Linked DNA regions of Homo sapiens: regions 1, 3 and 4 are each reported to be linked to region 2. Evidence: microRNA targets listed by miRTarBase, many of them from high-throughput screens and not tested one by one. Region 2 holds a microRNA gene; each other region holds the end of a gene's coding sequence.
Evidence for each region. Region 2 holds the annotated microRNA hsa-miR-4493 (AGAAGGCCUUUCCAUCUCUGU, at 3,415-3,435, shown strand). A microRNA usually pairs through its seed, bases 2 to 8, with sites in the 3' UTR of a target mRNA and lowers its output. Matches are read on the target gene's strand: a 7mer-m8 pairs with bases 2 to 8, a 7mer-A1 pairs with bases 2 to 7 and ends in A, and an 8mer does both.

Region 1 (7,233 bases), not on the chromosome of region 2:
ACATGGAGAAACCCCGTCTCTACTAAAAATACAAAATTAGCCTGGCGTGGTGGTGGTGCATACCTGTAAGGAGAATCGCTTGGGCGGGGTGGGGAGGGGCGGAGGTTGCCGTGAGCCGAGATCGCACCATTGCACTCCAGCCTGGGCAACAACAGCGGAATTACGTCTCAAAAAAAAAAAAGAACTGAGGCACAATTCATATAAGTAGAATGTTTATTTGGGGCAAGTTTGAGGATTGCAACCCAGAGCACAGATTCAAAATGCCCTGAGTAGCAGCAGTTGCAAGTGGGTTTTTAGAGGAAAAAATGGCAGTTCCTAAATTGTCTACCAAGAATTTACATTAAAATAACACAAGCGATTGATTGGCTATACATCATTCTTTTCATGACAAATTCCAGGAACGCGGACATAATGGGTGAAGCAGCTAGTCAGGAATAAAATGCCAGGCATTAAGTGGGGAGGTGTCTGAAGTCCCATACTGCTGTCTCTCTGGGCCCGGCAAATTTTGCACATCTCAAATAATTAACAATGCTCCGAGCCATTCTTCTTTTCTCATATAGAACAAGACTCACGAAAACCGACAGCAGCAGCTTTAGGAGGCCCAATACAGTCCGTTTTCCGTACGAAATGAGTTTAATTTATTGTGACTGCTCCAAAAGAAAAGTGCGGTTCATCTAATTTTCTTCCGAAAAGGAAGTTAAGGACCAGAGTTTCTTTGACCCCCTTCCCCCCACCCACCTCCTCCATTTTCCAGCTCTAGAGAATGGCTGGGGCAGCGCGCGACGTTGTAGCTACGGTTACGACCCGCCCCGTTCCTTCTACGAGAACCACATCAGCGTAGTATCACTTTTCCCCTCCGAAGCACAGTCACCCGTCAGCAGCCTCGAGGGCTGACGTGTCCTTATCAAGCCGGCGCGCCCCGCGATTCTATAGCCGCCATGCCTGAGACCTTTTTCCTGAAGGGAGAAGCCTGCTCTCGAACTAAGGCCGGCGAGGGCCATAGGTCTCGCCTTCCCTTTCCTAAGAAGGCCTAGTCCTACCCAGGATTCTGAGCAAGGGAGGCTCCTATTGGAGCCGCTACAGCCTCGTTCTTAGCTTACCGAGAAACAGCGCCCGACACCTGGCCCTTCGCAGCTCTCGCCTTTCGCAGCTCTCGCCTAACAGGAAAGGGAAGAAACAGGCGGAAGTGGGAACTGCACCTGAGCGACAGTACTGCAAACCAATAGGCAGCCGGCCACGGCGGTCAGGCGCCTTCGGTCGCGTCTGGAAAGCACCAACCAACGGTCTAAGGGGCGGGCCGGAGGGGTGTGGGCCGGAGGGCCGCGGTGTGCCGCGGGGCAGTTGCGGGTTGTCATAACGGTCCCCGCCGGAGTGAGGCGAGGCCGCGTCGCTCAGTTCTGGCCGTCTAGGGCCCCTGTAAGGATGAGAGCGCAGAGGACGCAGGGCCGCTGGAGGCGCAGGTAACGAAGCTAGGGTGCGGTTGGGACCGCGGCTGAGCTTTTTCCGGGACCCGTGGTGCTGAATGGAGAGGACGGAGACGAAGCCGAGCCGCGGCTCCTAGCGGCGGCGCCGATGCTCGAGCTGTAGCTGCCAGGCGAGGATGTGTGGAGCGCAGGCGGCGCGGGGTAAATGAGAGGTCTCGGGCCCCAGGACCCCCGGGGCCCGGGATGAGTTAGCGAGGGCAGCCGCGGGGGCCAGTTCCGACCGTGACAGGCCAAGGCGACGGCCGCCGCCCGCCCGCCCCTTCCGTGCAGAAGCAGCTGCTCCTTTCCGCGCCCGCCCGCCTGCGCTCCCGGCCCTGGAGACCATGAGGTTCCGCATCTACAAACGGAAGGTGCTAATCCTGACGCTCGTGGTGGCCGCCTGCGGCTTCGTCCTCTGGAGCAGCAATGGGCGACAAAGGAAGAACGAGGCCCTCGCCCCACCGTTGCTGGACGCCGAACCCGCGCGGGGTGCCGGCGGCCGCGGTGGGGACCACCCCTCTGTGGCTGTGGGCATCCGCAGGGTCTCCAACGTGTCGGCGGCTTCCCTGGTCCCGGCGGTCCCCCAGCCCGAGGCGGACAACCTGACGCTGCGGTACCGGTCCCTGGTGTACCAGCTGAACTTTGATCAGACCCTGAGGAATGTAGATAAGGCTGGCACCTGGGCCCCCCGGGAGCTGGTGCTGGTGGTCCAGGTGCATAACCGGCCCGAATACCTCAGACTGCTGCTGGACTCACTTCGAAAAGCCCAGGGAATTGACAACGTCCTCGTCATCTTTAGCCATGACTTCTGGTCGACCGAGATCAATCAGCTGATCGCCGGGGTGAATTTCTGTCCGGTTCTGCAGGTGTTCTTTCCTTTCAGCATTCAGTTGTACCCTAACGAGTTTCCAGGTAGTGACCCTAGAGATTGTCCCAGAGACCTGCCGAAGAATGCCGCTTTGAAATTGGGGTGCATCAATGCTGAGTATCCCGACTCCTTCGGCCATTATAGAGAGGCCAAATTCTCCCAGACCAAACATCACTGGTGGTGGAAGCTGCATTTTGTGTGGGAAAGAGTGAAAATTCTTCGAGATTATGCTGGCCTTATACTTTTCCTAGAAGAGGATCACTACTTAGCCCCAGACTTTTACCATGTCTTCAAAAAGATGTGGAAACTGAAGCAGCAAGAGTGCCCTGAATGTGATGTTCTCTCCCTGGGGACCTATAGTGCCAGTCGCAGTTTCTATGGCATGGCTGACAAGGTAGATGTGAAAACTTGGAAATCCACAGAGCACAATATGGGTCTAGCCTTGACCCGGAATGCCTATCAGAAGCTGATCGAGTGCACAGACACTTTCTGTACTTATGATGATTATAACTGGGACTGGACTCTTCAATACTTGACTGTATCTTGTCTTCCAAAATTCTGGAAAGTGCTGGTTCCTCAAATTCCTAGGATCTTTCATGCTGGAGACTGTGGTATGCATCACAAGAAAACCTGTAGACCATCCACTCAGAGTGCCCAAATTGAGTCACTCTTAAATAATAACAAACAATACATGTTTCCAGAAACTCTAACTATCAGTGAAAAGTTTACTGTGGTAGCCATTTCCCCACCTAGAAAAAATGGAGGGTGGGGAGATATTAGGGACCATGAACTCTGTAAAAGTTATAGAAGACTGCAGTGAAAATCACAGTTACAAAAGCGACAGTCTTCTATTTTTGATATTTGTCCAAACAGGACATACAATTGAATAAAAGAGTTTAGGAACTGGTTTCTGCTTTAATACAAAAACAAAATCTTGTAAAAGGTGTCCAAATACATAGTAATCTTTTCCAGTTATGTCTGATTAAGATTTAAAACTGAAGGTTTCATTTTGGGAGTAGGGTTTTAAAGCTCAATCTGTTATCTGCTAAAATTGATTATTGTTGATATGAGAGAAGAGGGGAAATTTTATTTAAATTGCATTTATTAATCTTTTTATCTGAAACTTTGTACACTTTTCCACTTTCAAAACCTATTTTAAGTACAGCAAAATTTATTTAAAACTGTCATAGCAGTAAAAAGTATTACGATGAAATTGTTAGGGTATTAATGGAACAAACCCAGTTTCACTCTCTTGACACACTTATTAGGAAGGGATTGCTTCACTGGTTTAATAATTTAAAAGTTATGTTTGTTAAACACCCTGTCAGAACAGTCATTTTCAGTATTAGATTCCTGTACTATTGTGTTTTGAGTGTGTTTTGGAACCTTCATAGAACACACTTTCTTTTGGAATGTATTTGATTGATAAGAAAGTTTAAACATTGTTTTCACCTCAATGTAGAAATACAGTGGTTTTGTTTTTTTTTTTCTTTTAGTGCTGACAAAATAAAATACTCATTTTTGCATAAAAAGGTTCCTAATCCTTTTGCAGAATAAGTTTTGTTTACTCTTTATACCAAAATTCAGTGAAGGCATTCTACAAGTTTTGAGTTAGCATTACATTTTAATATTTACTATTGCTACATTGTATAATTGAGTTTGAAATAAAACCCAGCTTATGACAATGCATTCCCTGTGCAAGAAACTGTTTGGCTTTCAAATTACCCAGGCATTGAAAATGAATGATAAAAAGTTGCTGTGTAAGGGAAATACAGCCTAAATTGTTTTTGAAAGCCAGAAATGATACAAAGTTCAGTCATGCCAAAGTGAAATACTTTCTAGTGCCAGCTTTAACTTAAATCATACGTTTTAAAAGGACAGATACAGAAAATTATAGGAAACAGGCTTAAATTTTGCTCCATATTTAATGTAGACGTTTATAGAAGTTTCCCTTAATTTGTAATTGCATTCAACCGAGAATTTCTCATAAAAGACTAATTTCTGTGTAAAGATATTACGGGCTGGGTGTGGTGGCTCATGTCTGTAATCCCAGCACTCTGGGAGGTTGAGGCAGGCAGATTGCTTGAACTCAAGAGTTTGAGACCAGCCTGGGCAACATGGCGAAAACCCATCTCTACTAAAAATACAAAAAATTAGCCGGGTGTAGTGGTGCATCTGTAGTCCCAGCTACTTGAGAGGCTGAGGTGGGAGGATCCTTTGAGTCTCGAGGCAGAGGTTGCAGTGAGCCTAGAGCGTGCCACTGCACGCCAGCCTGAGCAACAGAGCAAGGCTCCATCTAAAGAAAAAAAAAAAAAGTTACTTAAACTTGTAACTATTAAATGGCAGTCTCAAAATTATTGCATCAATTTAAGATTCATAGTAGTTTAAGAGCACATATGCTTATCTAAGGTGAGGCAAATAGTTCTCTTGCTTTACGAGCTACCTTTAGACTTACCCACGGCCCAGTCTGGTGCAAGATTTTGCCTGGGGGTTATAAATAAGGGTGAATCAGGAGGCTTTGTACCTATTTCTGGTACTCTGACCTGACATCACTAGTTCAAAGAACTAAAAAATTAGGTTATTTCCAGGACTGAGCTAAGAAGGCCAGAGTGTGAAGTAGTAGCTGTTTTTGAAACAAATAGATCAGCTCCTGGCTTTGGGGTTAGTGATTAAATCAACAAATATTTCCCTTTCTGTATTTCCTTCCTTTCATTTTCTTTGGCTGCCCTAAAATTTTTTGTAAGAAAAAAACCTGTTAGGATCTTCTCTTTGCCTCACATTTTAGGTGTTATAAAGGAAATTGATTATGCAGGAGGCTGAGATGAGAGGATCACTTGAGCCTAAGAGTTTGAATCCAGTCTGGACAACATAGCAAGACCCATCTCTTAAAAAAAAAGAAAGTGATTAGGAAACACTGGCTTTTTTTTGTTTTTCTGTGTAATAATGTAATGAAGGCAATTTTCCTATCAGAGCAAATTGCCAGATTTTAAAAATTCCAGTTTTACTCTTAAATTTCTATAAAACCACAAGATGTTTTAATATTTCAATAACTTCTAAGAAATACTTCAAAATTGAATTTTGAAAATCATTACTAAATAACTAAATCTATTATATATACTTTATGTAACAAAAATATATATAGTTTGTGTGACAAAATATAGAGCTGATGAAAAGTACTACATTTTATCTGGTGAATTTGTATCGTAATTGTTTAGATTAATATTGGTTAGTAAAGTTCTTTCCCCTCTAAGCTCTATTTCAAGCTTAAATATGTCCTACTTAGTGAGACTGAGAAACAGTTTTGAAATTCTACCCCCCACACATGTACTTATAATTCCAGTTAAATGCATTCTTGAGAATTACTTTGTGTGACAAACACAATTAGTGAATATTTTTAAATTTTATTAATGACAAAGCAAAATTTAACACAGAAGTATATATACATAGGTTGTATTAAAACTAAATGTTTTAACTCTCAAATGTTTTAACTCTCAAATAGAAAACATACACATCTATTACAGGAATCACAAAACTTATCTCCATAAGGAAACTTTAAACTCCAGAGGCAAAAAAAAAAAAATTATCTCCAATTTCCCCCATGAGAATCAAAATTGCAATTTTTTAAAAAAAATTGCAAATTTTAATTTTATACTTTAATACCTTTAGTTTTAAGACAACAGTTAACAGAATCAATTTTAGATACAGGTATTTTTTAACCTTAATATTTAAAAGTCCAAAATTATATAGAATTAATCCAAATCATATAGCAAAGAATTCTGAAAACTGAATGCACAATTGGTCACATGATCTTTAATGACCTGCACACTACCATCCTGCATATTGGTTTCTTTTATGCTGTCGAATCCAGGTATATTGTGAACCGTAGTTTTGTTCAGTAATGAAGATAGGTGATCTCCATCTGTTTCTTTCTCTTCAGTTATTACTGACTCGTTTAAGTTATCTTTTTCCTCATTTGAACAAGTAGCACTTTTTTCTTTTATAAATTCAGATTGCATTTTTGACTCAGGTTGCTGAGATTTTCCAAGTATCATTTGAGAAACATCAAGAGACTCTTGTTGAAAGCATGTAACTAAACCAAAGCTATCTATTTGTAGTGCTTTAACTGCTATAGATGAATCAGAATCAGTTGTAGGGGTGTTACAATGTTCTATATATTCCTTTTCAGTTAGATGACTTTCTTCATTTACTCTTTCCTCCTTTCCTTGTAGCTGATCAGAGTTACTACATTCTTGCAACTGTGTCAAGAGAAACAACAAATTAATAATTATTTTAAATAATACAAAATTAAATTGTACTACCCTCTGGAAATAAAATTTTTAACAGTTGTGAGGTAATAGCCCTTACAGACCTGCAGGTATACATCCAGGCTTTCCTGTCAAAATTCATCCTCCAGGCTGGGCACAGTGGCTCATGCCTGTAATCCCAGCACTTTGGGATGCCAAGGCAGGCAGATCACTTGAGGTCAGGAGTTCGAGACCAGCTTGGCCAACATGGCGAAACCCCATCTCTACTAAAAACACAAAAATTAGCCGGGTGTGGTGGAGCACACCTGATAATCCCCTCTACTTGAGAGGCTGAGGCAGAAGAATCACTTGAACCCGGGAGGTGGAGGTTGCACTGGGCCGAGATAGTGCCACTGTACTCCAGCCTGGGTGACAGGGTAAGACCCTGTCAAAAAAAGAAAAAGACAGGCAGCATTTGAAGGATGACTTTTTTTGTTTTGAGACGGAGTCTTGCTCTGTCGCCCAGGCTGGCACAATCTCAGCTGACTACAACCTCTGCCTCCAGGTTCAAACAATTCTGCCTCAGCCTCCCAAGTAGAGGGGATTACAGGCATGCACCACCACGCCCGGCTAATTTTTGTATTTTTAGTAGACACAG
Region 2 (7,238 bases):
GAGCTGAGTAGTTGTGATGGAGACCATATGACCTGCAAGCTAAATATATGGACTATCAGGTCCTTTAAGAAAAAGTTTTCTGACCCATGATCTAGAGTCCAAAGAAAGAGGTCACAGATGTCTATGTGGGGAGGATATAGTTGAGAAGCAGGCTAAGAGAGTTACCTTGGAGGAATAAATTTTAAATCTATTCTTCATTCAAGTAGTATTTGCTAACACTTTATATCAAGCACTGGGACACTGGGTTCAGTAGTGAGAATAAAACAATAAACAGAACAGATAAAACCCCTGCTCTCCTGAATGTTACAGGAGGAGCAACAGGAAGAAACAGTCAAATAAATAATCAATTACTAGCAACATCTACACTTGTGTGCAAGAAAGAAAACATAAGTGACTAGAGGGTTTAGGGGAAGGGGGTTACCTGGGCAGGAACACTGAGAACCAAGAAAATACAGCAGCACAAAGACCAAGGAGGAAGTGTATTTCAAGAAGAAAGACATAATTGGGAATGTCAAATGCTGTGAAGCAGGATGAGGTCTAGAAATAGGCCACTGGATTTGGCATTTGGGAAATTAATTAGAGACTGCTGAGATCATTTTTGGCACAATGGTAGAAAACAAACAAATCTGCAGGGGGTTGAGAAGTCAAAAGGTGGTAAGACACTTAGGGCAATACATGTATGCTGATTTTTAAAGATGAATGGATGGGCCAGGCACAGTGTCTCATGCCTGTAATCTCAGCACTTTGGGAGGCCAAGGCAGGTGGATCACTTGAGGTCAGGAGTTCAAGACCACCCTGGCCAACATGGTAAACCCCATCTCTACTAAAAACACAAAAATTAGCTGGGCGTGGTGGTGCATGCCTGTAATCCCAACTATTCAGGAGGCTAAGGCAAGAGAATCACCTGAACCCAGGAGGTGGAGGTTGCAGTGAGCTGAGATCGCGTCACTGCACTCCAGCCTGGGCAACAGAGCAAGACTCCATCTCAAAAGAAATGAATAAATAAAAATAAAAATAAAGATGGATGGATAGATGCATTAATGGACAAATAGAAAGAAATATATATTCATATATATATATATATATTCATGAAGGGAACAATAGCCAAAATATAGAAGCTAGAGAAGAATTTAGGTTGGGAGAGAGGTTTCTTTGTTAACATCAGGGAGATGTGTATTTAAGAAATAAAAACGAAAGACCCACTAGAGAGCAAAAGATTAATGATGTAGGAAAGAAGAAGGAATTCGTGAAGCAAAGTATAAGAGAAAATGAGTAGGTGTGACCGACAGCCCAGGTGGTGGATATGAGAAAAATAGCCAGTATTTATTGAACACTTAACATGAATGAACCACTATACTGGGAGATGAAGATACTGACACAGATAAAGATACATAGTCTTTAATTCTTATATCAACCTTGCAAGGAGTTTAACATTACCAACATTTTACAGATGAGGAAACTGGAACTTGCAAGGTTAGTAACTAGCCCAAGGCTCACATTCAGTAAGTGGCTGAGCTAAAATTTCAAGCTAATATGATTTAGCTCCATAGCCCATGTACTTTCCATTTAATCAAGATGCCACACATTGGAAACTAGGTTCTTCCCTACCACAGGGAGAAAGAAGCAGAATAGGTGAAATGAGAGAGAGAGAGAGAGAGAGAGAGAGAGAGCAAGACTCTGAAGTAGGAAGCACTCTTTAAATTCAAGTCCAGGTCAGCCCCAGTTAATGCCTGAGTGTTCTCACAGTAAGATTTTACCCGACCTACCATTACACATTCAACTCTGGATCCACTCTGCATGTGTAGAGTAGATCCCCCCATCTTGCTACACAGCCCCACAGCCCCATCTTGCTCTGTGACCCAGGAGGCTGGCCCTTCTGAGAAGTGTAACCAGTTCTCTTGCCTTCTGGCTTCTGGTTGGGTCCTGCCAAGGGAGGCACTGGCTGGATACAGGAGGGCAAGAGGAGAATTGGGACAGGGGCTTGTCCCTCAGCTTCTCCCTTGCTACTTTCCTGTGGATTGACTGCATCTCTGCACCCAAGGCCACAGCTCAGGTCAGGTGACCTCTCTTGCCTCATTTATCCTTTGCTCCATTTATCCTTTGCTGATATCCCTTAACTTTACCCACACCTTTAAAGAGAGTCCCTTTCTTAAACGCCCCCCATTACCCTATCCGAGTGTGCCATCTGCATCCTGCCAAGTCCTGACAAGCCACATGATCACCTATATTCCTGGATGCTTTTTCACAAACGCATAACATAGTCACCCACATTCATCCACTTTCCCACACACTTAAATATCACACTCCTATATGCAAATCAAGCAACTGCAAGGTCTTCAGAATGGAAACACTGAGGCAGTTTTCACAATATAAGAGAGTTCTAAACTGAACCTGAGAGTTCAATGCCAGTTTAAACCTCAGAGCCAAAATAATTTAAAAATCAATGATGCTTAATTATGGACCTTCGTGTTCTCAACTCCTCTGAAATCCCCTAAAAAAAACAAGTTCTGGATTTGACTGGCCTAGGTACAGAAGTGGGGAGAAGTGCACCAGATCTAAATCCACAGTTAGGCTCAGGTTCAAAGCTCTTCCCAGCGCTGGTCTTGAAAGGGAGGCCACCCAATCCTTCTGTTATGATTCACACTCTGTGATTAGGAACCTAATTTAAAATATTAATTTATTTTTCAAAAAGATAATGAATGAAATCAGTATCCTCAGAACTGCTGCTTCCTTGAACTCCCTTCCCCCCAATCCCCAGAAAAATCCCCTAGCTTTTCTACTGATATCATTCATTTATTCTGGGAAGATGAAACCACCTCAGTTTCACTTTTAATGTGTAGTTTCTTTCTCAGGCTCTGAGCTGCAGGAGTAGGCACTTGCTGGTCAGAGGAGGCCTCCTTTTCCCAGTATAGCACTTTCCACAGTGTGGGTAAACAGAGCAGTAGGTGCTGCCACTAACACTTACCCCACCCCAAGCCTCCGGTCCTAGCTGGCTGACTTCAGGCTAGTCGCCACCTCACTCTTGCTGTCTGAGCCCCTGTTTACTTCATTTGCAAGGTAATAGGTCTACAACAAATCAGTAGTTTGCAATTTTTTCAAGTATGGGATTAATTTTTATCATTTAAAAAAATAGCATAGTTCCAAGAGATGGTGACCACGTTGATGTATTTGTTCCCCAGGCAGCATTCAGTGCACACATGGCCTCTTAGAGCCTTTGCTGTAACTCTGCAGTCCTCCAGGAACCTTCAACCTATATATTAGAACCTCGACTCTGAATCCCTTCCAGTTCCAGCATGTTAATTTGCTTATATGCATGCCTAAGACCTGCCATTCATATAAAGACCGGGCATACAAGAATCTCAACCAGAGATGGGAAGGCCTTCCGGTGATTATCACAGCCATGCCTTTACCTCCAGAAGGCCTTTCCATCTCTGTCTAATAAGAGGAAGACAATGCTGGTAATTTGGGACCCAGCTCTCCTAACCAGGACTTGTCTCATGACGCAATAGGGAGAATTGGATTGCCATTAAGCACTTCCCTTTTCCTGGGAAACACACCAGATTTCAGGTTTTCTGCAGATGCCAAACAACCCACCCAGCAGCAGCCTCTTCCTAGAGCCCGGACTCTCAGGGCCATCGTCACCACCATCTGTTCTATCCTAAGACAAAGTTCTGGGGGCTCCTGAAGCATCTTATAGAGACAGACCCAAGAGCTGACCCAGGAAGAGTTGGAGAGGGAGTTGGCGGAGGAGTGAGGGAGACACTCCCAGAGCCCCTCAGAAATGAGCAAAGCTTGTGTATCTCACCTCTATTCAAGAATCCCCTACCTCTGATCAGGGGTTTCCATGGAAACCTTATGAGTTCTATCTATAGGAAGAGAAAAAAAACATGAAAAATAAGAAGCACCCTGAGGTATGTGTGAATTAGCTCCAAGGAAGGTACGTAGAGAAGAAGGGAGTGGGAGCTCATATGGGAAGAAAAAGAGGTGGTCATTATCCTGATACATAAAAAAACCAAACTGTCTCCAGTCCCAGAATGAGGAGGGAGATGGGGTGGACAGGCAGACATGAGGCTGTGGGGGTGCACTAGCATGTGTAAGCAACTACGTGGACAAAAGGGGACCAAAAATCACCATCTGAAAGGATCTCAGGCCAAGAGATCCAAAGGAGGAAGGACACAGGACAGGAGGCAGAGAGCAGAGCTGCTGGCCGTGTTGAAACGGCGGTGGGCAGCAGCCTCCTATTCTCTTTATCACCTAACGCCAACTACAAAGGGTCCATCCGTCTATCACCCATATTTGCAGGTTTGAACACCTCGAAACCCAAGCCTTAATGAAAGTCATAATAAAGTCCTAATAAAAGTCATAATAAAGTCTCTGGAGATGTCTAGTCTATTTTTGTCTTATAAAACTGCAACCTTTTGGGTCACTTGCAAGGAAGGACTCTGCTAAACTCTTTTTCCTCTAATCTTGATTTCAGATGAAGTTTTAATGAGGACTGAGTATCTGAGTTTTAAATGTCATACAACTTGCTTTTTAAAAATAGACCATGAGGATCAAAGACCTAAATGTAAGAGCTAAAACTATAAAACTCTCAGAAGCATTGGCATAAATCTTTGTAACCTTGGATTAGGCAGTGGTTTCTTAGCTATGACACCAAAAGGACAAGCAATAAAGGGTGAGTGAACTGGACGTCATCGAAATTAGAAGGTTTCGTGTTTCAAAGGATACCATCAATAAATGAAAAGACAACCTGATGAATTGGAGAAAAGTTTTGCAAATCATATATTTGACAAGAGACTTGTGTCTAGAATATATAAAGAACTATAACTCAATAACAAAATAATTTTTTTAAAGCTGGAGAAAGGACCTAAATAAACATTTCTCAAAAGAATAGATACAAATGGTCGATAAGTACATTTAAAAATACTGAACGTCATGAGCCATCAGGGAAATACAAATCAAAACCACAATAGATAGCACTTCATGGCCACTAGGATGGTTATAACATAAAAGACAGATGATAACAAGTGCTGACGAGGAGATGGAGAAGTTAGAACCCGCATATATATGCAATATACTTACACTGAATGTAAAATAGTGCAGTCCTTTGGAAAATAGTCTGGCGGTCACTCAAAGTGTTTAACATACAGTTACTATATGACCCAGTAATTTCACTTCCAGGTGTATATCCCAGAGAAATGAAAACATGTCCACACAAAAATGTGTGCACTAATATTCACAGGAGCATTACTCATAATAGCTGAAAAGTAAAAACAACCCAAATATCTATGAGCCGATGGTTGGATAAATAAAATGTGATATTAACCATACAATGAAATATTATTCGGTAATAAACAGGAATGAAGTGATGATAAATGCTAAAACATGGATGAACTTTGTAAACATTAAGTGAAAGAACACAGAAGGCCAGAATTAAAGCTAGAAGATAGAAGTTTGTTTTTTTTTTAAGATATCTCAACAAAAAGCAGTGTCTCTCTTCACAGCCTGAGCTTGCCCTACAATCCAATGGCCTGCCTTGTCAGGTAGGCATCATCCGTCAACGAAAGCATTCAAACTGAAAGTCTTCCTGGGATGTTGCAGATGCCATTTGAATAATTAGATGAGGTTGGACCACATGTCTTATTGGGTCCCGTTCAAATCAGAGAGACTGTGAATCTGTGGTTCTTTTCTTCTCTCCCTTCTAACCTATGCTTCCTGCTGCAGTAAGCGAGAATTTGGGAGACATTCCTAAGGTATAACTCATTATTTTTACCTCATTCCATCCCTCTAACTTTAACCCCTGATTTAACTTTAACTTCTTCCTTATCTCCATCTTCCCTTGTTCCTCTTTAGACTGACACTGTACAACTCCACATGCCCTGCCAACTCCCATCAAAACTGGGGTATGTAAGAAGCCTCAAAAAAGAAAAGAATAACAAGAGAAGACTGAACACAGGTGGCCTGTCACACCTGTTACATTTAGATGTTAAATCCTATTGCTCTTGTGCATGAGAAGACTCTAAGCAGAAAAATAATTTAAAAATTAATGAAAATAAAATAAATACTGTTGCTTGCTTGGTCTGGGATACATGCAGATGTTCACTGAACTGGCTGAACCAGATTCACATGAATTACCCTCAGAAGGGCCTACATATGCTGTAATCTTTCTGCATAACACTCAACCCTTGTAACATATTCAGTGGCTGTTTTCCCTGCTTCATTGGTTTTTCAAAGGCCGAACCATGACAGTTTTGGTCTCTGCTATATCCTTGGGGAGGCACTCAATAAATAGTAATCAAAGAATTTCTCCTACCATTTCCCCATACATTCCAGACTGCTTGAGATTATACTCATGAAAGTCCTGCTTAAAACTAAGCAAAAGACAACCTGATGAATTGGAGAGAAGTTTTGCAAATCATATATTTGATAAAAGCCTTAGACAGTGCACTGGACTTCAGAACTAGTAGGAATGTTAGAAAACACCTAGCACAACCCTTCCATTTGACAGACTGAGGGCCAGAGTCATGAAATATTCAGCTAGGGAGTAGCAGAGCTGGGAATTTAAACTAGTTGTTCTGGTTTCTGGGAGACAGATTGCCATAGGCAGTAAAAAAAATGCAGGCTTTGAAGTCAGATCAACCTGGGTGCCAATGCAGGTCTTCCTCTTACTAATTCCACGGTCTTGGTAAGTTAATCAATGTCTTCAAGCCTCAGCATCTTCAGAAGTAAGATAGCACCTTCGACTACCTCCCTGGTGCAGAGAAAACGCTTAATAAACAGTAGCTTTGATAACCATTACCAAGTCCAGTGTTCTGACCACTAGAACACATAGGTCCTTGGCTTTGTACCTGTGGACACAGAAATATACCTATGCTAACAGGGAAAAAAGGACAGAGTGTGCTGAGCACCTTTCCATACTCAGTCTAAAACACAAAGGAGCCACATAGAAGGTGGCAGAGCCACTGCCATACACACACATGACCACTTTTCAGCTGGAAGCGCATGGTGGTGGAAGGCGATCCATTTCATTTGAGTTTGAGATCTTTTGCAAGTCTTTTCTTTAGATGGCTAATCTTTCTCCTCAAGTTCCTAGTTCAGGGTCTTCCATTGGAAGAATAACAAATGGAGAGCCACTGGACCTTCTAAGTGTATATTATCTTCCAGCTCTTCTGAATGTTACTTGCAGGAAGAGGTCAGGGAGCACGTCTAGTTCAGAGATTTGTCCTCTTGGGTGCTCA
Region 3 (7,000 bases), not on the chromosome of region 2:
TCATCGCCGCCTTCTGTTTCCTGGGCATCCTGTGTAGTCTCTCCGCTTTCCTTCTGGATGTCTTTGGGCCGAAGCATCCTGCTCTGAAGATCACTCGTCGCTATGCCTTCGCCCATATCCTAACGGGTAAGCCGTGAGCCTGCTCACAGTGGGAGAGGAACTGCTACAGGGTGGGGGCATCCTGTCTGAGTTGCCGGTGGGGGCTCTGGTTTCTCTGAGCAGGCACCCTTCCAGGAGCTCATGTGCCAAGCTCCAGTCTTTCCCAGAGTGTCAGGGTGTCAGCAGCCTGCTCCAGTCTAGCTGCTAACTTGCCAGGATCACAAACCCACTCAGCCCAGCTGTAGAGGGGAAATGTTGCTAGAAATTCCACAAGGAAGCTCACAGCTCTCTAAAATGGCATTTGAAGCTCAGACCTGACATGAGTGAAGAAGGAACCAGGCAGTCTCCCGTGTCTCCCCTGGAGCTCCTGGTCAGATTCTCTCCTCTCCACCTTCCTGCTTCCCTACAGACCCGCCTTTTCTTGTATGTAGCTGCTGTCCTCCCTCGTGCCTGCACTGCTGTGCTGGTTTGAATTGTGGTGTGCCTACTCCAGCTCCCAAGCTGCATGACCCTATTTGCTCCTTAAGACAGATGGAATCTGACTGGCCTAGATCAGGTCAGACTGCTGTCCCCAACCTCAGGCCAGGAATCCCATGGTCAAGAGAGCTCCTCCTTGCAGAGTCTGGGGCCAGGCAGGTTCTCTGAGAATGGGGTTTGGGTAGAGAGGCTGTGATTGGGTCCTCAAGCATCCTAGCTGTGGAGTGCTCACTAATTCCCCTTCTGTGCTGTCCCTCTGTCTCCTAGTTCTGCAGTGTGCCACCGTCATTGGCTTTTCTTATTGGGCTTCTGAACTCATCTTGGCCCAGCAGCAGCAGCATAAGAAGTACCATGGATCCCAGGTCTATGTCACCTTCGCCGTTAGCTTCTACCTGGTGGCAGGAGCTGGTGGAGCCTCAATCCTGGCCACGGCAGCCAACCTCCTGCGCCACTACCCCACAGAGGAAGAGGAGCAGGCGCTGGAGCTGCTCTCAGAGATGGAAGAGAACGAGCCCTACCCGGCGGAATATGAGGTCATCAACCAGTTCCAGCCACCCCCTGCTTACACACCCTAATGCCAGCCCTGGGCTCTCTTCCTCGGCAGCCCCTCCCTCAACTCTGCAGCTCCTCTCGCACCCAGAGGAGCTCCTTTCCCCAGCAGGCCTCACTGGTAGGATCCTGACCATCTTCTCCAAACCTTCCCCAGGAGAGACTCTGCCTTTAGGGTCATCCAAGTATCCCTGCTCTCAGAACCGGAGGTCCACTGGTTTTCTATAATGTACTCTTTCCCTCCTGCCACATCCTGCCCCCTTCACATTCACGAGTCATTACCAGCCAGGGAAGGTCATCCAAGTTTCCTCCAGCATGGGCGATATCTTTGGGACCGAGACTTTCCTTGGAGAGCTGCTGAGAGCGGACAGTCCCAAAAACAAGTGTCAAAGGGCCCAAGGGAAAGGGGACTGTGCCCTGGAGGCTCACTTCACAGGGATCAGTGTTTGCTCCACAGCTGTAGCTCTGGGCTGACGCCCCCCAGACCCCTTCCTTCTCGGAGTGACCCGCCCCCAGGCCACCTGCTCCGGGGAGTTCTGTGCACTTTACTCTTTGGACTTCTCCTCACGTGTGCCCTGGTTTTATGGGGAGAGGGAATCGCTGTTGGGAAGGCAGAGCAGTTGCAACCCTCTCTGCCCTTGCTTCATGTGGCTGGAGCCCAGGCAAGGAGAGCAGGAGCCAGCGTGAGACTGAGGCCCCCTGGTGCCTATCAAGGACCAGAGTGAAGGGGACTACATCTCCCAGCCCTTCACCTTTTAAATATGAGTGGTTTTAAAAGGAAAAAAATGAAACCAGGCAACAGCAACAATATTCTGTTTTTAAAATAGGGACAAGACTGTTGTCACTTTTTAGACATGTATCCCATTCCTTTTGGCTCTGCAATATTTGGGGCTGTAGCTCCTTCCAAGCCCATGGTAGTCCCTCCCCGAGTCTCTCCCAGTAGAATGCAGCCTCCCTTCCCTGGCCCCTTCCCTCTCAGTGACGGTGACTCCCTGGGGCCTTCTCGTGGAACCCAGAGGGGCTGAGGACTGTGGCCTGGCTGGCGGGCCAGCGTGGTGCTCCTCAGGACTGCAGCACTGAGATGGAACCTGGCCTCAGTTTAGGAACAGGGGCCACAACAGGGCAGGAACCCACCACCCTCCACATAGGAATACAACCAGTGGGGCCACATCATGTGAGGCATCAGACCCACACTGTCAGCCCAGCAGGCCGGGCTGTGTCCTTCAGACCCAGTGCTGCCCTAGACTCTGACTCGGGACTCCAGCTTGCCACGTGCCCTCTCCCCTCTTGAATGTACTCTGGTCTTGCAGTGTGCTGCTGGGACTTTCTTGCTCAGCCATCACTCTGGTCACCTTGTTTGCTCTGGGTCTGGCTGAATTTTCTGCCCTGAGATCTGGGCATAAAGTGGATGAAACTTGAAAGACCTTCAGTGTAGATCCAGATGGCCAACCTGTCCTTGTTAAGTTACTTGCTTCTTGGGAATCAGTGTCCCCTGCTGAGCTGAAAAGGAAATGGATTCCAATCTCTTCCAACCTTTAAGGTGATAGATAGTTTGAGCAAGACTGGAGAATGGACAACACTATGAAGCTGTGGCTAGAAAGGGACTGTCATGTCCCATCCTTTGGCCAGATTGACTGGGGATGTCCGGACAGATGCCTGCATGGGTGGTGAGGGCCACATCTGCACACGAGCCAGTGGCTGCTTGCAGTTCACTGCTGTGATGCCAGAGTGTGTTCAAAGGTGACTCTCCTGCTCTTCTGGACTCTTCTCTCAGGCAAGAAAGGCTGCAGGCTGCCTGCTATGTGATGCCTGAGCACAAAGCCAAGGAACTGAACTAAGTCTTTCTGTTAAGTCCTGAGTTTGTCATTGGCAGGTTTACTTGTGGCCAGCTCTCTCTGCCCTTGGGTGTCTGAGCAGGCAGACCAGAAGACCAGGCACTGGACCTGCATGCCAAAGGGACTGGTCATCTCCTGAGGACCTGTAAATGACCCTGTGGACTGTTCCGCACGATCCGGAACCCACTTTTTATTCACTCCCCATGTCTTTGGCCTTCCTCTTCTTTCTCTTTCCCTCTGCCATCCTGACACTGATAGTTTGTCATATAAATTCCCCGGGTTGTGTTTTTTTTTCTAGAAAAAAATTAAAAGGGAAAACAAAACCAAAAAAACCAGAAACCACGAATAAGAATGGAAATGACAATGGCTGCCTGTCATTTTTCTGTCACGATTTTCCTGATTTGGTTTGTTCCCTTTGTCTCAGAGAAGCAGGAGATGTTGATGAGGCTGTATTTTTTTTTCTTTTTCTTGTTTTTGAGACAAGAGTCTCGCTCTGTCACCCGGGCTGGAGTGTAACGTGGCATGATCTCAGCTCACTGCAACCTCTGCCTCCTGGGTTCAAGCGATTATCCTGCCTCAGCCTCCTGAGTAGCTGGGATTACAGGCATGCGCCACTATGCCCAGATAATTTTTTTGTATTTTTAGTAGAGACAGGGTTTCACCATGTTGGCCAGGCTGGTCTGGAACTCCTAACCTCAGGTTATCCACCCACCTTGGCCTCCCAAAGTGCTGGGATTATAGGCATGAACCACCGTGCCTGGCCAAAGATGTAATTTAAAATAGTTAGAAGGGACTTGGCATGGGCCAGCTCCGTGCATGGCATTTTCACCCCCAGAGCTTCCTAATCCTGTTTTCACACAGGAAGTTTCTAGGTCTTTCTAGAACAGCTAGAAATAGTAGCTGACTCCCGCCCAAGGCCCAACCTTCAAACCCTGAGCTCTTCAGGCTGCATCCTCTGGTGAGCTATAGAGGAGAACGTGGCTCCTAAACTCTAGCCATCCTGTGGGAGGAAATAGACTTCTTTGGGCTGTGGCTTGCAGAACAAACTACACTTTTTTTCCCTCTATTGTTTAAATTTTATTTAATAATTTGTGTGTTTTTCTGTCTTTATTTTCTGTATTTCACGTGTTCCTTCACTCCCTAGAAACTGCACTTTCTTTGAAACCATAGGTAATGAATCTTACTAGGAGAGGCATGGGGATAGAGACAGTTCTGGGAGTGTGACCTGTAAGCCTCCTGTAGGGCAGTGCCAGGCCTTGATTGCCCACGTTCTCTCCGTTCCTTCTTCCTTCATACATTTGATCACACAGCCTACACCCAGCCCCGAGTGTGCATCACGGTAAAAGAGCTGAGGGCTCTCTTCAGGGAGCAGCCCATTTAGGTCTCTTTTGTTGTTGTTAGGGAGAATACACATCTTTCTTGGAAGCTGGGAGTGTGTTCTCATTTCATGTCCATTCAGACAAAGCACCATTAGGCACCATGAAATATACAGTGACGGACAGGACCCTGTCTGCAAGGATTTTATGTCCTTAGTTCAGGAGATGGACTTGTCCACAGAAAGGCAGAGTGAAGTGGGCGGCCGGCTCGGAAAAGTCCTGTGCCCAGAAGGGAGCCAGTTCTGACCTGAGTGATAATGAAAGGCTTCCTGGAGGACGCAGCTTGAGCCACACTTGATGTGGGAGTGAACTGGGATAGGGACACTCCTGCTGAGAGAATGGCAAGAGCAAAAGCACACTGGTGGCCAGGAGGTGGTAAGAGCCGAGGTTAGAAAGGTGAGGGGTGCTCATTTAAGGCACTAACAGCAGAAGGAGCCCAGGAAGGATTTTCAGAAGGGAAGGGAGGGATGCAACCTTATTTTAATGACTGGTGACAGTAGGAAGGGTTCTGCCTGGCCTTAAGTGAGGGTGTTGAAAGTGGGAGACAGGACCTGCCAAAGGGGAAGAGGGCGGTCACAGTCAATCCCAGGGCCCAGTGTCTCAGCCAGGTGCTGGAGTTGGGAATGCGGGAGCCCCAGTCTCTGCCCACCTGTCACGTGGCAGCTGGAAGGTGGCATCAACTGCACAGGCGAAGAGGGGCCCGCACACGAGAAGCCATGGGATGTGAAGGGCCGCAAGGAGAGGACCCTGGGACACAGGAAGAGGTGGTGCATCTGGGGCAGGGCGGCTTTCCCAAGATGACTAGAGAATCTTCAGCTGGCATCTTGCCTGAAATATCCACGCTCTCAGCCACTACACTAATGGAACACAGATGCTATGGGGAGACAGAAGGGAACTGACAAACTTCATGCCCCTGTTTTCAAATAGCCTGCAATCTTACCTCTTCCTCTGCATTTTTTGGGGGGAGTGACATTTTAATGGGAGGCAGGAGGTTTGTGGAGAAGAGAAAATGTTTTTTTTGTGGGGGTGGGTAGAGACAGTCTCACCATGTTGCCCAGGCTGGTCTCAAACTACTGGCTTCAGGCAATCCTTCTGCCTCCCTTCCCAAAGGGTTGGGATTACAGGCTTGAGCCACTGCACCAAGCCTGAAAATGTCGTTTTGAATGAGCCCACCTGAAACGAAGACGCTTCATTAGGGTTACTGGTTTGAGAATTAAGATCAGTTCTGGCCGGGTGCGGTGGCTCACGCCTATTATCCCAGCACTTTGGGAGGCCGAGGTGGGTGGATCACAAGGTCAGGAGATCGAGACCATTCTGGCCAACATGGTGAAACCCCGTCTCTACTAAAAATACAAAAATTAACCAGGCATGGTGGCAGGTGCCTGTAGTCCCAGCTACTCGGGAGGCTGAGGCAGGAGAATCACTTGAACCCGGGAGGCAGAGGTTGCAGTGAGCCGAGATCATGCCACTGGACTCCAGCCTGACAGAGTGAGACTCCATCTCAAACACACACACACACACACACACACACCACACACACACACACAGGTTCCTCACCATAAGCTTTGGGGAAAATTCTTGGCTTTTTTGCTGGGGGAGAGAGCAGTGCCCAGGGAAGATTGGCTGATCTCAGAGCTGGAGGGTTTATGCGGGACTGGCCAGCCCCTTCAGCTGAGTGGGACAGCAACACAGTGGGTGGTAAGGGGCTTCATAAGATGTACAAGATGAGGGAGAGGCCCCTCCAGCCAACCCTGTGTCTAAAGAGTCAGGTAACGAAGAACTTTCCAGAGACAGCTGTGAGTCCGTCTGGCTTAAGGGGTTGTACAGGTGTCTGAGAATGGGGCCTGAAGGTGCAGGGCCTGCAGGCTGCCCTGTTTGGAAGGTTCCTGTCCTTCTGTCTTGGTAGAAAATGGCAGCTAGCCTTGTAAAGGGCCTCCTTGTGTAGCGAGATAGACCATGTAGCCCCAGATGCCCCCATGGCTTCACTTCCCTCTTGGGGGTCTCTCAGTATATGTCTAGTGCCACCACTATTGGTGGAGAGTTTCCTTCTGGAATAACCTTGGGGTGGTGGATGGGTTTTATTTTAATAAAAGAAGAATGTCTCATTCATTTTTTCTTATTTATTTTTTGAGACGGAGTCTCACTTTGTTGCTCAGGCTGGAGTGCAGTGGCAAGATCTCGGCTCACTGCAACCTCCACCTCCCCGATTCAAACAATTCTCCAACCTCAGCCTCCCAAGTAGTTAGGATTACAGGCATGCACCACCATGCCTAGCTAATTTTTATATTTTTAGTAGAGATGGGGTTTTGCCATGTTGGCCAGGCTGGTCTCAAACTCCTGACCTCAGGTGATCCGCCCGTCTTGGCCTCCCAAAGTGCTGGGGTTACAGGGGTGAGCCACTGCGCCCTGCCCCGTTATTGATTCTTTCCATCTGTTTGCTTCCTCATATTCTAACGGGGTATGGGAAATTTGCTTGCATGTACACACATGCAATTTCTTTCCTTTTTTTCTCTTTTTCTTTCTCTTTCTCTTTCTTTCCTTTCTTTCCCTCCCTTCCTTCCTTTTCTTTTCTTTTTTCTTTCTTTTCTTTGACAGGATCTTGCTCTGTCTGGAGGCTGGAGTGTAGTGCTGCAATCATGGCTCACTGCAGCCTCAACCTCCCAG
Region 4 (7,000 bases), not on the chromosome of region 2:
TTTTTTCTAGAGATGGGGTTTTGCTATGTTTCCTAAGCCAGTCTCAAACTCGTGGACACAAGTGATCCTCCTGCCTCAGCCTCCCAAAGAGCTGAGATTACAGACATGACCCACTGGGCTCAGCCTAAAATAGATTGTTTTTTATATACTAAAACCCATCAGGATTGGTAGGTATTGCTAGATGCTTCAGGTTGTGACTAAGGAGTGACATCATATTCTGATATGTTTTTTCTCCTTAACATTTTCCTATATTATATCTCAAAAGACCAAAAACAAACAAAAACTTGTAATTAACTAGTAGATAAAATAGGGGTAGAAGTTGTGGTGAGAACATGTCACTTCCTATTTCCAGTAAGACCCAAGTAAGATAGTAAAAAGAAAGCAGAGCTGAGGAACTTGGTCTGTTGGGGGTGAAGGTAGCTGGTTGTAGGTGTGCAGAGCAGGAATGCATGTAAGTGTAGATCATCTGATCTTACCCATCGGATCGCTTGTAACTTGATGATACTGTTTTTTTGTTGTAAGACTGAGAAAACCCTGTATTTCAGTGTCTTAAGATACAGTGATATTCTGACTCTGTTTCTACCTGAGGTATATTTGGATACATACTCCTTAGATCTTCAAGCTGATTACTAGGACCAAACCAAAATTTTTGTTTCATACTTAGTGTTTTGCCTTTTGATTTTATTCATTTAAATATTTTCAGCATTATTCTCACTCTCAGTACATTTCCCCCGACTTGAGCTAGTCAGTGTCTTCAGTCATTTGATTTTTGATTTTTTAAAAAAGTTATTTTCCATTTTCTTGATGTGATAGTTTCTTACACTTTGTGATATTCAATTTGATGACTTTTTATGTCTTATTTCTCAGATTATACACTAAGCCTAACTTCTGGTTCCTAGGTAAGTCAGTAATGTTGTATGCAGCAGAAATGATACCTAAACTAAAAACAAGGACACAAAAAACAGGAGGTGCTGACCAAAGTCTTCAACAAGGAGAGGGAAGTAAAAAAGGGAAAGGAAAGAAAAAGAAGTAACCTAGTATCAGCATCAAGTATGTGGTACTACTGTAAGAGACATGAATGGAGACTTCTAATTTGTATCGGAGGGAAACAGAAGCTTTTTGTTTGCATCATTTAACTGAACTGTGAACCCTTGTGCCTCTCATCTTTATCATCGGAGTTGACAGTGAAACAAATTTACATCAGAAGTTTGCATCTCGCGTATATGCCGTATAAAAGAATTTTTTTGTCTTTCAATGCAGTTTTTTGGAAGAAAATATTTTTAAATGGACAATGGACTGTACAATAAGTTACTTGAAATAAGTTGTTTCAGATAAATTTCAATTAGATTTAAAATAAACATTTTGTCCACCTTTTAAGTTAATGAAATAAAATTTGAAACTGACTTTTGCAGCTTTTGCTTATATACTAATGCTAGGAGAGGAGGGATAATTAAGAATAAAATATGTAGTGAAAGTTTCCATAGTGTGAGGCTAAAACTAGAAGAAACTGTGGTAGGTCCTTTTGTGGGTGGGGGACAGGGGAGTCTGTAAAAAGCCAGTCTGTAGATGATATTTTAATATATTATTGTAATCGAATCGTTCAGTTGTTTTTTGACATGGAAAGTCCTGGATTTTAAGCTTTAAATTTGCTTATTTTGTAGGTTTAAGAACATGATTTTCATGGGAGTTGTAAAATTAACTGTGCTTTAGCACCTTGAGGTACACTTTCCTTCAACAAATGAAATTGGATTGGTGCTCCAGAATTTCAGAGCGGTTTCTGAAAGTAGTGATTTTGAGCTATCCCAATTCCTGTTCTTCCTGAGGCCTGGTTTAGCTCTTCCTTGAATTCTGCAAGCTATCTCATATTTTCAGTAAATTCCATTTTTTTTAAGTTTGTTTGTTTGTTTGTTTTTGAGATGGAGTTTCACTCTTGTTGCCTAGGCTGGAGTGCAATGGCACGATATCGGCGTACCACAACCTCTGCATCCCAGGTTCAAGAGATTCTCCTGCCTCAGCCTCCCTAGGAGCTGGGATTACAGGCATGTGCCACCACACCCGGCTAATTTTGTATTTTTAGTAGAGACAGGGTTTTTCCATGTTGGTCAGGCTGGTCTCGAACTCCCGACCTCAGGTGATCTGCCCACCTCAGCCTCCCAAAGTGCTGGGATTACAGGCATGAGCCACCGTGCCCGGCCTTCTTTACATTTTTATTGCTCACAGTCAAACATTCCTATTGATTGTAAAATAAGCAAACCTAGAGTTGTGGAGATTTATATGTATTTATTTATTTGAATTGAGACAGGGTCTTAAACTCCCAGGCTCAAGTGATCCTCCTGCCTCAACCTCCCAAAGTGCTGGGATTACAGGCATGAGCTAGCTGGCCTGTTGACTTTTTTTTTTTAACTCTAACAATTTCTGTTTTATAGTGAACATAATAGTATAAGACTTAGTTTATATATTTGACTTACAAATAAATCCTGGGGAGAGGGGAGTATGTGTAAAACATAATTCAGAGCAGCCTTCTTTGAGAAAGTGGGTGTGTTTGGCTGTGTAACAAAACAATAAGGGGATGTGTTTGCTGTGTAACAAAACAATGAAGGATTTAAGCAGGATATTTTTGCCTCATATGTTAAATCCAAGTGAGGTTGCTGTGGTGGTTGGTTTAGCTCTCAGTGATGCCTTTTTTGTATTTTTCCGCTCTGCTGTCCATGACATATTTCTAACACCTTTATGATTATTGTTCCTGCTTGTAAAAGGGCTGATATTTACATGAGTGCAAGGCAGGAAGAAAAGGTAGCTGTGCCAGCCACTTCTGGCAAGCAGTTCTCCCACCTTAGCCTCCCAAGTAGCTGAGACCATAGGCATGAGATTTCTCAAAATTCCTCCCAGCAGGCTTTCACTTAGTTTCATTGTTGAGAACTGTGACAGGTCCATCTCTAGCTGCAAAGGAGGCTGAGAAAGTGAACACAGCAGTCCTCCTTATCCTTGGGGAATACATTCCAAGAGTGGATCCCTGAAACAGCAGATAGTACTGAACCCTATATATACTATGTTTTTGCCTATGTATATATACTTGATATGGTTTGGCTGCTACCCAACCCAAAATCTCATCTTGAATTATAATCCCCAAATCCCTATGTGTTAAGGGTGGGACCAGGTGGAGATAATTGGATCATGGGGGCAATTTCCCCTGTGCTGTTCTTGAGATAATGAGTGACTCTCAGGAGATCTGTTGGTTTTATAAGTGCCTGGCGTTTCCCCTGCTTGCAGTCACTCCATCTTGCTGCCCTGTGAAGGTGCCTGCTTCTCCTTGCCTTCTGCCATGATTGTAAGTTTCCTGAGGCCTTCCCAGCAATGCGGAACTGTGAGTCAGTTAAACCTGTTTCCTTTATAATTAATCAGTTTTGGATATTTCTTCATAGCAGTGTGAGAATGGATTAATACATACCTATGATAAAGTTTATAAATTGGACACAGTAACAGATTAACAATAAAATAGAACAATTATAATAATATACTATAATAAAATGTATGTGGAAATTGTCAGTCTCTCTCAAAATATTGTGCTATACTCACCTGTTTTGGGACCAAGGTAACTGAAACCACAGAAGTGAAACCACAGATGAGGGATGACTGCATAGCTTTTTCAGTCCTGACAGCCAAGGCAGCTAAGGAAGAAAGTAGTTGAGAATGCATACTGGGTCAGGTACAGTGGCTCACACCTATAATCGCGGCACATTGGGAGGCTGAGGCAGGAGGATCACTGAAGTCCAGGAAGTCGGGACCAACCTGGGCAACATAGTGAGACTGTCTCTACAAAAAAAAGAATTAGCTGGGCATGGTGGCACATGCCTATAGTCTTAGCTACTTGGGAGGCTGAGGTGGGAGGACTGCTTGAGCCCTGGAGGTGAGGCTGCAGTGAGCCGTGATCATGCTATTCCACTCACCTCAGCAGAGCTGGACCCTGTCTCAAAAAAAAAAACGTACTGTGGTAGCCAACTGAAAAGATTTGTCACAGAAAGATGGTTGAAATCTGGAAATGGTTTACTTTTGGGGCAATAAGGATTGTCAGTGCCATATTTTGGATGTCCCCTCCAAAATGCATGTTGAAATTTAATTGCCATTGTGATGTTATTGAGAGGTGGAACCTTTGGGAGGTGATTGGGCCATGGGGGCTGTGCCCTCAGGAATGGATTAATGTTACTATCTGAGGAGTGGGTTTGTTATAAAATGGAGTTCAGCCAAATTTTTCTTTTGCTCTCCTCAGCGCACCCTCTTTGTCCTCTCACCTTCCACCATGGGATCACACAGCATCAAAGACCCTTGCCATATACAGGTGCCATGCTTTTGGATTTCCCAGCTCCTAATCATGAGCCAAATACACATTGCCCAGGCTGGTGTGCAGCGGTGCGATCTCAGCTCACTGCAATATCTGCCGCCTGGTTTCAAGTGATTCTCCTGCCTCAGCCTCCCGAGTAGCTGGGATTACAAGTGCCTGCCACTGTACCCAGCTAATTTATGTAGTTTTTAGTAAAGATGGGGTTTCACCATGTTGGCCAGGCTGGTCTTGAACTCCTGACCTCATGATACACCACGCCCAGCCAATTTCTATTCGTTTTTTAAGATACCCAGTCTGTGGTGTTCTGTTGCAACAACATAAAACACTAAGATTTCAGAACTATTGCTGTAACAATATATTGCTGTTTCTTCACATTATTGCAATTGGTGCAATCAGTGAATTTTTTTTTTTTTTTTTTTTTTTTTTTGCCAGTTGTTAAGTGAAAACTGTAATCTTTTTAAAACAGGCCAAAAAATGTTTTTTTGAGACAGGTCTCTCTTTTTCACCCAGGCTAAAGTGCAGTGGCACAATCACGGCTCAGTGCAGCCTCAACCTCCCAGCCTCAAGTGATCCTCCCATCTCAGCCTCCTGAGTATAAAAGTTTGTAATTAAAAAAATTTTTTTTTAGAGGCCAGGTGTGGTGTGGCTCATGCCTGTAATCTCAGCACTTTGGGAGGCTGAGGCGGGCAGATGACTTGCAGTCAGGAGTTCGAGACCAGCCTGGCCAACATGGTGAAACCCTATCTCTACTAAAAATAACAAAAACTAGCCAGGCGTGGTGGTGGGCGCCTGTAATCCCAGCTACTCGGGAGGCTGAGGCAGGAGAATCACTTGAACCGTGGGAAATGGAGGTTGCAGTGAGCCAAAATTGTGCCACTGCACTCCAGCCTGGGTGACAGAGTGAAACTCCGTCTCAAAAAAAATTTTTTTAAGAGATGAGATCTCACTCAGGCTGTTCTTATACTCCTGGGCTCAAGCAATTCTCTCAAGTGGTTGGGACTAGAGGTACATGGCACCACACCTAGCTGAAAAAGGGAATCTTAATGAGACAGTTGAGTATTTATGTAGATGTTGAAGTGCTTTTCGTATTTATGAACTGAGTTCGCATCCTCTACTCACTTCTTAAGGAATCTGTTATCAGAATTATATATAATTTTAAAAGCCAGCTAGTTTTAATAGTGTGTTTCTGTTTTAGGCATTAACTTCCATTTGTAGAAGAAGAGGATTTAGTTTTTCTTCTCTACCATATGCTTGCATATTTCCTATCTTCCTAGCCTACCAATATATTTCATAATTTAACCACTATTCAGAGTTTACATTATACATTCTGTTCACAGCTCAGCCGTGTAGTACATTTGCTACTAAAAGTATGGTTGAAGGACCAGCAGCACTGGCCTCTGGTGAAAGATTGTGAAAAATGCAGTATCTCTGGCCCCAGCCCAGAATTCAGATGTGTTTAATGAGATCCCCAAATGATTCTTTTTTTTTTTTTTTTTTTTTTTGAGACAGAGTCTTATTCTTGTTGCCCAGGCTGGAGTGCAGTGGCACAATCTCAGCCCACTGCAACCTCTGCCTCCCGGGTTCAAGGGATTCTTCTGCCTCAGCCTCCCCAGTGGCTGGGATTACAGCCATGTGTTACCATGCCTAGCTAATTTTTGTATTTTTAGTAGAGATGGGGTTTCGCTGTGTTGGCCAGGCTGGTCTCCAACTCCTGGCCTCAAGTGATCCGCACACCTTGGCCTCCCAAAGTGCTGGGATTAGGTGTGAGCCATTGTGCCCGGCCTCATCATTTTAAAATCTTTTCTGTAGTCCTTTGCCTGGCTCTGATCTCTTACCCTTTAGACCTAGTGCACAACTTCACTCTGGGTTCTCACCATTGTCTGGAGTGACTCAAGCCACTGCTTTGCTGTTTTGGGGATATCTGTTGTGTATCCCGTGTATTCCTCTTTTTTATGTTACTGCTTTGTTTTGTATATCTTGTTCTCAGGATCTTCCCCAGAAAAGTGCAAGAGAGGTAAATGTTCTTAGACCTTGCATATTTGAAAATTTCATCATTCTACCCTTACATTGTTTGGCTGGATATAGAATTACCTTTGGAAGTCATTTTGTTTAAGGAATTCAAGGGAATTGCTTTTTGGTCTTCTGACCTCTTGTAGCTGAAGGGAAGTTGTAGCCATTCTAGTTTATTATCATGATCCTGGTTCCAGTATTCTGAAATATAACAGTTGTGTGCTTTGTGTGGGTCTTTTTTTTTTTTTTTTTGCCCATCGTGCTGGGCAGCTAAGTGGGTTTTCAGTCTGGGAATTTGTGTTTTCAGCTCTGGGAAAGTTTTTTGAAAATTTCATTGATAATTTTTCTCCTCTTTCTGACCTTTCTTGGTACTCTTTTATTTGACTATTAGACCTGCTGGTCTGATCCTCAGGTTTTCTTTTTTTTTTTTTTTTTTTTCTTTTTTGCCTTTATTTAGATTTGCTCAGCTTTATTTTCCAACCTTTCCTATTCTTTTTTTTTTTTTTTTTTTTAGATGGTGTTTCACACCGTCACCCAGACTGGAGTGCAGTGGCCCGATCTCGGCTCACCGCAACCTCTGCCTCCTGGGTTCAAGCGATTCTCCTGCCTCAGCCTCCCGAGTAGCTGGGATTACAGGCATGCGGCATCAAG

Region 1: miRTarBase lists DNAAF2 as a target of hsa-miR-4493. The part of its 3' UTR that is shown has no 7-base or 8-base seed match.
Region 3: miRTarBase lists TMEM127 as a target of hsa-miR-4493. Seed matches in the 3' UTR shown: 7mer-m8 at 2,122-2,128 and 7mer-m8 at 3,172-3,178.
Region 4: miRTarBase lists SRP19 as a target of hsa-miR-4493. Seed matches in the 3' UTR shown: 7mer-m8 at 2,192-2,198.

What each region holds. Positions count from the first base shown.
Region 1 is chr14:49,619,462-49,626,694 of GRCh38, forward strand. DNAAF2 (dynein axonemal assembly factor 2) reads right to left here. Exons shown (of 3, transcript NM_018139.3): 3 at 5,713-6,587. The coding sequence ends at 6,081. RPL36AL (ribosomal protein L36a like) reads right to left here and starts at 1,165. Exons shown (of 2, transcript NM_001001.5): 1 at 1,101-1,165. It overlaps MGAT2 (alpha-1,6-mannosyl-glycoprotein 2-beta-N-acetylglucosaminyltransferase), which reads left to right and starts at 1,338. Exons shown (of 1, transcript NM_002408.4): 1 at 1,338-4,020. The coding sequence starts at 1,808. The coding sequence ends at 3,151. RefSeq lists enhancers at 940-1,049, 1,438-1,988 and silencers at 1,210-1,419, 1,720-1,829.
Region 2 is chr11:123,377,638-123,384,875 of GRCh38, reverse strand. It overlaps MIR4493 (microRNA 4493), which reads left to right and starts at 3,364; the gene lies at 3,364-3,436. It also overlaps a transcript of GRAMD1B not described here. RefSeq lists enhancers at 2,459-2,538, 2,699-2,778.
Region 3 is chr2:96,247,959-96,254,958 of GRCh38, reverse strand. It overlaps TMEM127 (transmembrane protein 127), which reads left to right. Exons shown (of 4, transcript NM_017849.4): 3 at 1-126; 4 at 844-6,445. The coding sequence ends at 1,151. Among named protein-coding and RNA genes, the nearest start is that of TMEM127, 15 kb to the left of the region's middle.
Region 4 is chr5:112,866,505-112,873,504 of GRCh38, forward strand. SRP19 (signal recognition particle 19) reads left to right here. Exons shown (of 5, transcript NM_003135.3): 5 at 900-3,284. The coding sequence ends at 1,033. Among named protein-coding and RNA genes, the nearest start is that of SRP19, 8.7 kb to the left of the region's middle.